Homo sapiens: one gene and its partners. The protein of the gene in region 2 interacts with the protein of the main gene of each other region in a biochemical or structural test. Each region holds a gene or a part of one and is shown on either strand. Other genes may lie near its edges. The genes, in order: HOMER3, TRPC1 and RHOA.

Region 1 (3,653 bases), on a different chromosome or scaffold from region 2:
CTGCAGGATGGGATTGTAGGATGAGTTGAGACTGAAGCCCCTTTAAGCTTCCCCGGTTTGATTCCTAGTTCATTTTTCTGTTTTTTTTTTGAGATAGGCTGCAGTGATCTTGGCTCACGCAACCTCCGCCTCCCGGGTTCAAGCGATTCTCCTGCCTCAGCCTCCTGAGTAGCTGGGACTACAGGAGTCCGCCACCACGCCCAGCTAATTTTTTGTATTTTATTAGAGACAGGGTTTCACCATGTTGGCCAGGCTGGTCTCGAACTCCTGACCTGAAATGATCTGCCTGCCTCGGCCTCCCAAAGTGCTGCAATTACAGGCATGAGCCACTGTACCTGCTCTTGAGTCCTAGTTCTACTGCCTGTAGCTCTAATTTTGGACACACCCTGCTCCTCTTTGGGACATCAAATGGGTGGCTGGGCTGGGCTGGGCACTTTCCCACATGCCCCAGCAATACCTTCATCCTCACCTCCCTGCACCCTGTGCCGTCTCTATACTTCCATTATTATCTTTATCCGTGGTTTTGTTGATGATGAGTGCTTTCACGAAGATCTTCTTCTTTTTTTTTTTTTTTTTTTGGAGATAATGCCTTGCTCTGTCCCCCAGGCTGGAGTGCAGTGGCACGATCTCGGCTCACTGCAACCTCCACCTCCCGGGTTCAAGCGATTCTCCTGCCTCAGCCTCTGGAGTAGCTGGGATTACAGGTGCCCACCACCTCGCCCAGCTAATTTTTGTATTTTTAGTGGAGATGGGATTTTGTTGGCCAGGGTGGTCTTGAACTCCTGACCTCAGATGATCCACCTGCCTCGGCCTCCCAAAGTGCTGGGATTACAGGCATGAGCTACCACACCAGGCTTTCTTTGTTTTCTTCTAGAAGGTTTAGAATTTACCTTTCTTCTTTTTTTTTCCCTCCCTCCCTCCCTTCTTTTTTTTTTTTTTTTTAACAAGATCTTGCTCTGCTGTCCAGGCTGGAGTGAAGCAGTGCAATCATGGCTCACTGCAGCCTCAAACTCCTGGGCACAAGGGATCCTCCCACCTCAGCCTCCTGACTAGCTGAGACTATAGGCGTATGCCACCATGCCTAGCTAATATCTTTAATCTTATTTTTTTTAGAGATAGGATCTCACTATGTTGTCCAGGCTGTTCTTGACTCCTGGCCTCAAGCGAGCCTCTCACTTTGGCCTCCTAAAGTGCTGGGATTACAGGCTTGAGCCACTGCACCCAGACAATTTACTTTTTTTTTTTTTTTTGAGACGGAGTCTCGCTCTGTCGCACAGGCTGGAGTGCAGTGGCGCGATCTTGGCTCACTGCAAGCTCTGCCTCCCAGGTTCACACCATTCTTCTGATTCTTCTGCCTCAGCCTCCCTAGTAGCTGGGACTACAGGCGCCTGCCACCACGCCCTGCTAATTTTTTTTGTATTTTTAATAGAGACGGGGGTTTCACCGTGTTAGCCAGGATGGTCTCGATCTCCTGACCTCGTGATCCACCCACCTTGGCCTCCCAAAGTGCTGGGATTACAGGTGTGAGCCACCGCGCCCGGCCCCAACAATTTACCTTTCTAATTTAGGTCTTTTTTTTTTTTTTGGAGACAGAGTCTAGCTCTGTTGCCAGGCTGGAGTGCAGTGGCCCGATCTCGGCTCACTGCAACCTCTTCTCTCCAGGTTCAAGCAATTCTCCTGCCTCAGCTTCCCAAGTAGTTGGGATTACAGACACACCACACCTGGCTAATTTTTGTATTTTTACAAAATTTTTGTTTTTTTAATTTTTGTATTCTTAGCAGAGACAGGGTTTCACTATGTTGGCCAGGCTGGTCTCAAACTCCTGACTTCAGGTAATCCGCCTGCCTCAGGCTCCCAAAGTGATGGGATTACAGGTGTGAGCCACTGCACCCAGCCTAAAAAATCATTTATTTATTTATTTATTTATTTATTTTTTTGAGACAGAGTTTCACTCTTGTCCCCCAGGCTGGAGTGCAATGGTGCGATCTCGGCTCACCGCAACTTCCGCCTCCCCGGTTCAAGCAATTCTCCTTCCTCAGCCTCCCAAGTAGCTGGGATTACAGTCATGTGCCACCATGCCTGGCTGATTTTGTATTTTTAGTAGACATGGGGTTTCACCATGTTGGTCAGCCTGCTCTTGAACTCCTGACCTCATGATCCACCTGCCTCGGCCTCCCAAAGTGCTGGGATTACAAGCGTGAGCCACCACACATGGCCTTATCTATTTATTTTGAGACAGAGTTTTGCTCTGTCACCCAGGCTGGAGTGCAATGGCACAATCTCAGCTCACTGCAACCTCCACCTCCTGGGCTCAAGCAATTCTCCTGCCTCAGCCTCCCAAGTACTAGGATTACAGGCGCCCACCACCATGCCTGGCTAATTTTTGTGTTTTTAGTAGAGATGGGGTTTCACCATGTTGGCCAGGCTGGTTTCGAACTCCTGACCTCAAATGATCCGCCCGCCTTGGTCTCCCAAAGTGCTGGGATTACAGGTGTGAGCCACCGCACCCGGCCTAAAAAATTATTTTTAAACTAAGGAAATTTATTTTAAAACCGGGGTGGTGGGGGGAAACATATCCTATCCTAACTGGAAAACTGGTATTGCTTTGTCATAAATAGGTGGTAAATGTAAACATGTAAACATTTAATACAACAAAAACAAGAATGAGATGATTACTTTCTCATTGACTTCTGATGTCTCTCAGAGCCTGAGACCTAATCTCTTTGTTATAAAGGAATAATAACAGGTGTTAAAGACAGATTAGCACCCACCTGAGGCTCTCTTTGTTGAAATAGCCCTGATAAAGATTAAAAGGGACCCCACATGTTGGCTCATACCTGTCATTCTCACACTTTGGGAGGCCGAGGTGGGTGGATCACGGGGTCAGGAGTTCGAGACCAGCATGGCCAATATGGTGAAACCCCATCTGTACTAAATACAAAAATTAGCTGGGCGTGGTGGCACGGGCCTGTAGTCCTAGCTACTCGGGAGGTTGAGGCAGAAGACTCGCTTGAACCTGGGAGGCAGAGGTTGCAGTGAGCTGAGATGGTGCCACTGCACTCCAGCCAGGGTGACAAAGCGAGATTCTGTCCCCCCCCAAAAAAAAAAAAAAAAAAGGCTGGGTGCTGTGCCTGTAATCCCACCACTTTGGGAGGCTGAGGCAGGCGGATCACTTCAAGCCGGGAATTTAAGATCAGCCTGGCCAACATGGTAAAACCACATCTCTACTAAAAATATGAAAATTAGCCAGGCATGCTGGTGCATGCCTGTAATCCCAGCTACTCATGAGGCTGAAGCAGAGGCTGCCGTGAGCCAAGATCATGTCACTGCACTCCAGCCTGGGCAACAGAGCAAGACTCCATCTCAAAAAAAAAAAAAACAAAAAACAGGAAAAGGGCCATTCTGGGGAACATGGCTAGACCCCGTCTCTAGAAAAAATTAGCCGGGCATGATGGCACACACCTGTAGTCCCAGCTCCTTGGTGGAGGGGTAAGGTGGAAGGGTCACTTGAGCCAGGGAGGTCAAGGCTGCAGTGAGCCGAGATCATGCCACTGTACTGCAGCCTGGGTGACAAAGTGAGACCCTTTCCTAAAAAGAGGACATGGGAATTCCTTTCCCTTTCTCAATGTGGCCCAATGTATTTAAATGCCACC
Region 2 (3,653 bases):
ACCCCAATGTATTTATAACCATATTATTGTAAATGAAACCTTCAAAATTAAAGATACTAAAAAACATGGTAGGCTAAACTGTTTATAACACTTTGAACATTTTTGTAAAAAGACAATTATTACCATAATTTCTTAGTTGCTTATGAATCTTAATGAGGACCATTAATAATAATGAATATCATTTGGCAAAAGAGCAAAGATTCACACTGCTGCCTGAAAAAATTACACTATAGCACAGAAGGTAATGCTGATTTTTTCATAGTAAATCAGTTGATAAAAATTATAAACAGCATATTCTTAACTCTATTAGAAAAATAGTCAAAAGCAATGTTTATTTTGTAGTTAGAGTCTGATAAATGACATGAGATCCCATTCACAATGCTGCTGTAAGTTGTTTAAAACTTAGTTTATATCAGGTTGTTGCAACACAGTCTCAGAAAGGATTTATTGTGTTGCTTAAATTTAATCTCATATACATTTGAATTATACATATTTATAAAACTAGAAAAATATATTACTGGCCAATATGTTAATCTAGAAAAACATATGTTTAAAAATTAACAGAAGCTATTAATAACAGTGCCAGTCACCCCCACTTTATACATAACAAAGCTTTGGCATCCAAAGAAATCTACTGAGTCTCATGACTATATTGATACAGTGCTGGAATTCTTTTAGTCCTTATCATTCATCTAGGCTCCTAAAAGTCATTAGTTAATCACATCTTAGTGATAACTTTTGAAATCCTCATTACCTATTCAACTATTGATCTTAAATCTTAAATTTCTCAGTATCATTAAATTTGGAAGAGTTAGCAATGAAGAAGATATTTAGAGCACTGGCAGCAAGGTAGAAGAGGAATTATTAGGTTACGATAATACCTATATAATAAAATTTAATCTTTTCACACTCTTCCTCCAAGTCTATATACAAGGTATAGCTAGGAGTCTGGCTTGGGTTACATTTTTTTTAACTGCCCAGATAAAAGACTGACCCTGTACACGTAATATCCCATTCTCCAAATCACATATAGGCCATTTAAGTTAAATTGAGCACTTGCTTCTTCCCTTCAGACAGATATATTTAATACAAACATACTTTTGTTTCCTTACTTCTCCTCGCTAGAGCACAAGAGAGCATCTCCATTAAAGAATATTCTCCTAAAGGATAGGGATGTACTCAGTACTTTCTTGATAAAGCACTTTCACAGTGCCTTAACACAATTAACAGCTTGATAAGTATAGTTTGATTGTGACTTACAGAAAAAGAGCAGCAAAGTTGCGTGATCACTATAAAGAATTACCAGTATCATAGAACTACCAGGCAGCTAGCTGCTGAATTACTAGTCTGTTAGAGATAAATTATCCACTAAGATTTTCGCAATTTGAGTCTTTCGTTGCTGTTGTTAAAGTATCCCTGAACCGTTCGCCATGGCAATGTTTTTCAACTATTACATTGTAAAACTTTGGTTATTTGAAAAGCTTTCCTATATAAAGTACATAAATGCTATGTCTATGATGATTTGTGAAGTGTTTATAGAATGCTGCCTACAATACCCTCTTTACCTCTCATTTCTGCAAAGTTTTTTCCTCACAGCACATACCTCCTTACATTAGGTGCCCCATTGTCAACATAACACTTCACACCAATACTCAGTACTCTGCATTTTTTGTTTCTTCCCACCACCATCCTCTCTAATACCAGACTTCAAAATCTCTTCTCAAATAAGTAAAAAAATTTTAAAGGCCCATTATATATAAATAAGGTGTTTAAAAAACAGCAGCTTAATATTACTTCTCTCAGAAATGCTGCACTTTTTTCTTCTGACTCTGGCTTCTCTCTGGAGTTGTTGCACATTTTTAAAGCATCCTTAGCCCAAAGGTACACAAAGCTTATGGAGAAAGTCAGTCATCAGGCCAGGCACGGTGGCCCACGCCTATAATCCCAGCACTTTGGGAAGCCGAGGCGGGTGGATCACTCGAGGTCGGGAGTTTGAGACCAGCCTGGCCAACATGGTGAAACCCTGTCTCTACTAAAAATACAAAAAAATTAGCCGGGCGTGGTGGTGGGCACCTGTAATCCCAGCCACTCAGGAGGCTGAGGCTGAGGCCGGAGAATCGCTGGAACCCGGGAGGCGGAGGTTGCACTGCACTCCAGCCTGTGCAACAAGAGAAACTCCATCTCAAAAAAAAAAAAAAAGAAATACAGTCATCAAAACATTTTTCCTTACAACACAGCAAATCTTACCACAAAGGTGACACAGGACACTGAGACTAGGCTGAGCCCACTGATAAAGGTGAAAACCTGCTCTCTCCATCCCTCCCCCTAACCCCATGCTGAAATTTCAAGAAGGGGCTTCTAACTCATTTACCGCACATCAGATTTCCTGAAAATACTCTCCATGGAGAGTTGGCAGGGACTGAATCATTTCATACTTTCTTTCCTCCACATGAACTGATTAATGATCATCAGCAAATCAAACAGTTTATGCAGGTTTATATTTACAAATATATACTAAAAGCTACCATCTACTCAACAAGTTTTTTTTTTTTAGAGGAAAATTAACATGAACTACACTTAGTTTAGGTGTTTTCTAAATAAACTTATTTACCCTTTCTCCTGTTAACAGACCTGAGGGACACCATAGGTGCCTACAAATAAAAGAGGCTCATTATGACACTAATTCTCAATGAGAGAGGACAAAGCCATGGCTGTAAGAATCACTACTTAATTTTTCATAAAACAACATATTTATAGTCAGCTCTTGTTTCAATTAAGTTTTACCTCTGAATTTATATAGCTTTCTATCTCTAGAAAGAACATGAGTATACTTTCTGAGAATTTTATCTGGGGGTCCTAGACTTCACTTTATATATTGCTGGCACAGTAACTTTCAATTAAGGTTTTCCTTTACAAAGAAAGGATTCAATGTTACCTCTGAGATGATCCTCACCCACTATGAAGATCACTAACAGCCATTACTAAGTGGCCACTACCTAGATCAGCAGTTGCCTAAATCTACCGAACTTACTTACATAAAAGCCAGCTATCACAAACTATAAATCTTTTTCTTTTCTCTTTCCTACATTTATTGTACTCTTTAATCTGTACACATCTTTCAAAGGGCCACCCATCCACTAACATACACATATCCATCTCATCTCCACAATTTTTGCTTTAGGAATTCCTCAATTTTTCCTAAGAAGAATATGTTATGAACATTTTGCATATGTACAACAAGAATGCTACATGAAAAGAATGAGACACTCTAGAACACCATAGATACTCTAGAGTTGATTTACTCTGGTGCTACTGAAGTACCATGCTTGCTTTTTACCCTTCATTGAACAAATGTAATACACAGAAATCAAGGTTTATAAAGCATCCATACAAAGAAAATGTAATTTCAACTAGTAAGTCCAAATATGGATGTGTCTTTTCTGACACAAATGATGTTCACTCATTCACCTACAACCAGATCTATATAACGTAGTGGTTAGGAGTGCAGGCTCAAGATAAATGCCAGTTCTACTATTATCTAACCAATGTAACCTTGGGCAAAGTAATTTTAAAATTTTGCTAAGCCTCATTTTCCTCATCTACAAATTGAGGACAACAACAGATCTGGCTCATGGGGTTGTGGGGTTTAAATG
Region 3 (3,653 bases), about 93 Mb from region 2:
CAAAACTCCATCTCAAAAAATAAATAAATAAAATAAGTTAGTTGAAGGGCTACATGTCTGGCACTTGAGGTAAGTGCTTCTCTCTCACTGAAATCTCATGGCGCTTCCTTACCATTCCCTTTCTACAGAAGAAAAAAACTGAATTACAAAGGAGACATACTACTGCCAAGGGTCTCAAGCCATCAAGTGTCAGAGCTAGTATTTAACTGTCAGTTTCTCTCCAGAATCCATGCTCTTAAATAAGATACTCTACTGCCTTTTCTTTCCTTCTTTTTTTTGTGTGTATGTTTGAGACGGAGTTTCGCTCTGTTGCCCGGGCTGGAGTGCAGCAATCTTGGCTCACTGCAACCTGCGCCTCTCAAGTTCGAGGGATTCTCCTGCTTCAGCCTTCCGAGTAGCTGGGATTACAGGCACTCACTAATACACTCGGCTGATTTTTGTATTTTTAGTAGAGATGGGGTTTCACCATGTTGGTCAGACTGGTTTCGAACTCCTGACCTCAGGTGACCCACCCACCTCGGCCTCCCAAAGTGCTGGGATAACTGGCATGAGCCACCATACGCAGCCTGCCTTCTGTTTCTGAACTTAAGATCTTCAAAAGATAAACAGAGCTTCATTATGAATAACTGGAAAAGTTAAACAAGAGATTTCATCCAGAAAAGAAATTTTCCACACACACAAAAAAACAGGTATTTCCAACAAAGCTGCCATATCACATAATAAAATTATCTTGTAGAAAAAAGCATTAACAAAGTGTTACAACATTAAATATCCATCTTAAATTTACTTCCTTAACCTCTCAAAGCCTATATCCCAAACAAAGTTACAAAAAAAAATCCCAGTAGTAGAGCATATGATCTCTAGGTCCATGGAAGAGACACCAGAGAATCACAACTCATCTGCAACATACAGACTAGGATACAATGGCTAGAAGAATACAGTAAAATAAAAATGTATACATAACAAAAGTTAGAATGCTCAACCATATACTTGAAGTCAAAACAAGCAACTTTTTTAAATCATGGGACTGAATCCTTGTGCTTTAGAGCAGCTATAAGCTTCAGAAATTAAAAATCTTGGCCAGGGTAGCTCACGCCCGTAATCCCAGCAGGAAGCTGAGGCGGGTGGATTGCCTGAGGTCAGGAATTTGAGACCAGCCTGGCCGACATGGTAAAATTCTTGTCTCTACTAAAATACAAAATACAAAAATTAGCCAAGGGTGGTGGGCAGGTGGTGGATGGCACCTGTAATCGAGCTAGTGGGTAGGTTGAGGCACGAGAATCGCTTGACTCACATCTTTAATCCCAGCACTTTGGGAGGCTGAGGCAGGAGGACAACTTGAGCCCAGGAGTACAAGATCTGTCTGGGCAACATAGCAAGACACCATCTCTAGTACAAAAAAAGAGAAGAAAAAAATAAAGCAAAAAAATTTTAAAAACAAATCCTTAGTGGCTCATGCTTGTAATCCCAACACCTTGGGAGGCCAAGGTGGGTGGGTCACGGGGTCACGAGGTCAAGAGATCAAGGCCATCCTGGCCAACATGGTGAGATCCCGTCTTTACTAAAAATACAAAAATTAGTCGGGCATGGTCACACACACACACCTGTAGTCCCAGCTACTCTAGAGACTGAGGCACGAGAATCGCTTGAACCTGGGAAACAAAGGTTGAAGTGAACAAAGATCACTCACTGCACTCCAGCCTGGGTGACAGTGAGACCCTGTCTCAAGAGAAGAGAAGAGAAGAACCAATGACTTCAAATAAAATAGGCAGAAGTCACTAAGTCAAGGAAATTAATATTATGAAATCCTTTCCGTTTTTTTTTTTTTTTTTTTTTTTTTGAGTCTTGCACCGTCTCCCAGGCTGGAGTGCAATGGCTCGATCTCTGCTCACAGCAACCTCCGCCTCCCAGGTTAAAGTGATTCTCCTATCTCAGCCTCCTGAATAGCCGGGATTATAGGCGCCTGCTGCCACGCCCAGCTAATGTTTTGTATTTTTAGTAGAGACAGGGTTTCACCATGTGGCCAGGCTGGTCTCAAACTCCTGACCTCAAGTGATCCACCTGCCCAGCACTTCCAAAGTGCTGGGATTACAGGCATCAGCCACTGCTCCCAGCCAGGAATTCCTTTTTATATTTGTCCAAATTATCATATTAGTTTACTATTTAGTCAGAATGGAATTAGATCTACTCCTACTCACAGTGATTCTAGTTTTTTTTTTAATATCAGATCATGTCATTCCCTTTCTAAAGAATATCTAAATGACTTCTAATCTCAGAACAAATCCAAAGAATTTCCCATGTCCTAAAGGCCCTATATGATTTGGCCCCTGCCCACCTCTCTAACCTCTTTTTACCTCCAACTTTTCCTTTCACTCCACTTCAAACTTACTTCATTGGCTGTGTATGTTTTCCTCTTTCCCTTCACTTAAATTTAAGATACTATCATAAATATGCTTAAATATGGCCAGACATAGTGGCTCTCACCTGCAATCTCAACACTTTCAGAGGCCAAGGGGGGCAGATCACAAGGCCAGGAGTTCGAGAACAGCCTGACCAACATGGTGAAACCCCGTCTCTACTAAAAATACAAAAATTAGCTGAGCACAGTGGCGCATGCTGGTACTCCCAACTACTCCAGAGGCCGAGGCACAAGAATCACTTGAACTAGGAGGCGGCGGTTGCAGTGAGCCGAGATGGCGCTACTGCACTCTGGCCCGGACGACAGAGTGAGACTCAGTCTCAAAAGAGAAAAAAAAAAAAATATATATATATACACACACACATACACACACGTATATGTACACATATATATACGTATACACGTATATGTACACATATATATACGTATACACGTATATACGTATACACAAGTATATATACATATACACACACACACATATGCTTAAATATACATACTCATCCTCTTCAAAAAATAAAATCAAGCTAAGTTTGGCATAAACTGCATACTGATTGCAATTTAGCAAGAGTATTTGATGTTTTTCTTTATTATTAGCTATAAAAATGTATTTGGATGAAGCATCAATAAACTGAGACCAACACCCAGAACGAGCAGCTTCAGTGCCTGATTTTCAGTCACATGACTATCGTAATTATGAACATACCAAGGCCTTCACTTAATACTACAGCTCCACAGATTAAAGATGAGGGATTTTATAGTAATTACAAACTTCAAACCGTCTTGGAAATTTTAATCCCACAAATGAGCATGTCCCCAAAGAGCCCCATGTATAGCAAGGCATGTAACATTAAGTTCAAAATTTAGTTATATTAATGTGTAGTTACAAGCAAACAGTTCCATTGGGCAGGTAAACAAAGGAATAAACTAAATGGCAGAGTCAGACAAAATACTTAAGATCCTTTTTTTTTTTTTTTGAGACGGAGTCTCGCTCTGTTGCCCTGGCTGGAGCACAGTGGCGCGATCTCAGCTCACGGCAAGCTCCGCCTCTCGGGTTCACGCCATTCCCCTGCCTCAGCCTCCAGAGCAGCTGGGACTACAGGCGCCCGCCACCACACCCAGCTAATTTTTTTTGTATTTTTAGTAGAGACGGGGTTTCACCGTGTTAGCCAGGATGGTCTCCAGACCTCGTGATCCGCCCGCCTCGGCCTCCCAAAGTGCTGGGATTACAGGCATG

Evidence for each region.
Region 1: the proteins of TRPC1 (region 2) and HOMER3 form a complex in vitro, tested with the Homo sapiens proteins (one study listed by BioGRID).
Region 3: the proteins of TRPC1 (region 2) and RHOA form a complex in vitro, tested with the Homo sapiens proteins (one study listed by BioGRID).

What each region holds. Positions count from the first base shown.
Region 1 is NC_000019.10:18,934,598-18,938,250, reverse strand, and holds part of HOMER3 (homer protein homolog 3), read left to right. Parts: intron 1-3,653. UniProt on the Homo sapiens protein: Postsynaptic density scaffolding protein. Binds and cross-links cytoplasmic regions of GRM1, GRM5, ITPR1, DNM3, RYR1, RYR2, SHANK1 and SHANK3.
Region 2 is NC_000003.12:142,726,882-142,730,534, reverse strand, and holds part of TRPC1 (short transient receptor potential channel 1), read right to left. Parts: intron 1-3,653. UniProt on the Homo sapiens protein: Forms a receptor-activated non-selective calcium permeant cation channel. Forms a heteromeric ion channel with TRPC4 or TRPC5 that has reduced calcium permeability compared to the homomeric TRPC4 or TRPC5 channel.
Region 3 is NC_000003.12:49,405,418-49,409,070, forward strand, and holds part of RHOA (transforming protein RhoA isoform 1 precursor), read right to left. Parts: intron 1,390-3,653; exon of another isoform or gene 1,295-1,389; intron 1-1,294. UniProt on the Homo sapiens protein: Small GTPase which cycles between an active GTP-bound and an inactive GDP-bound state.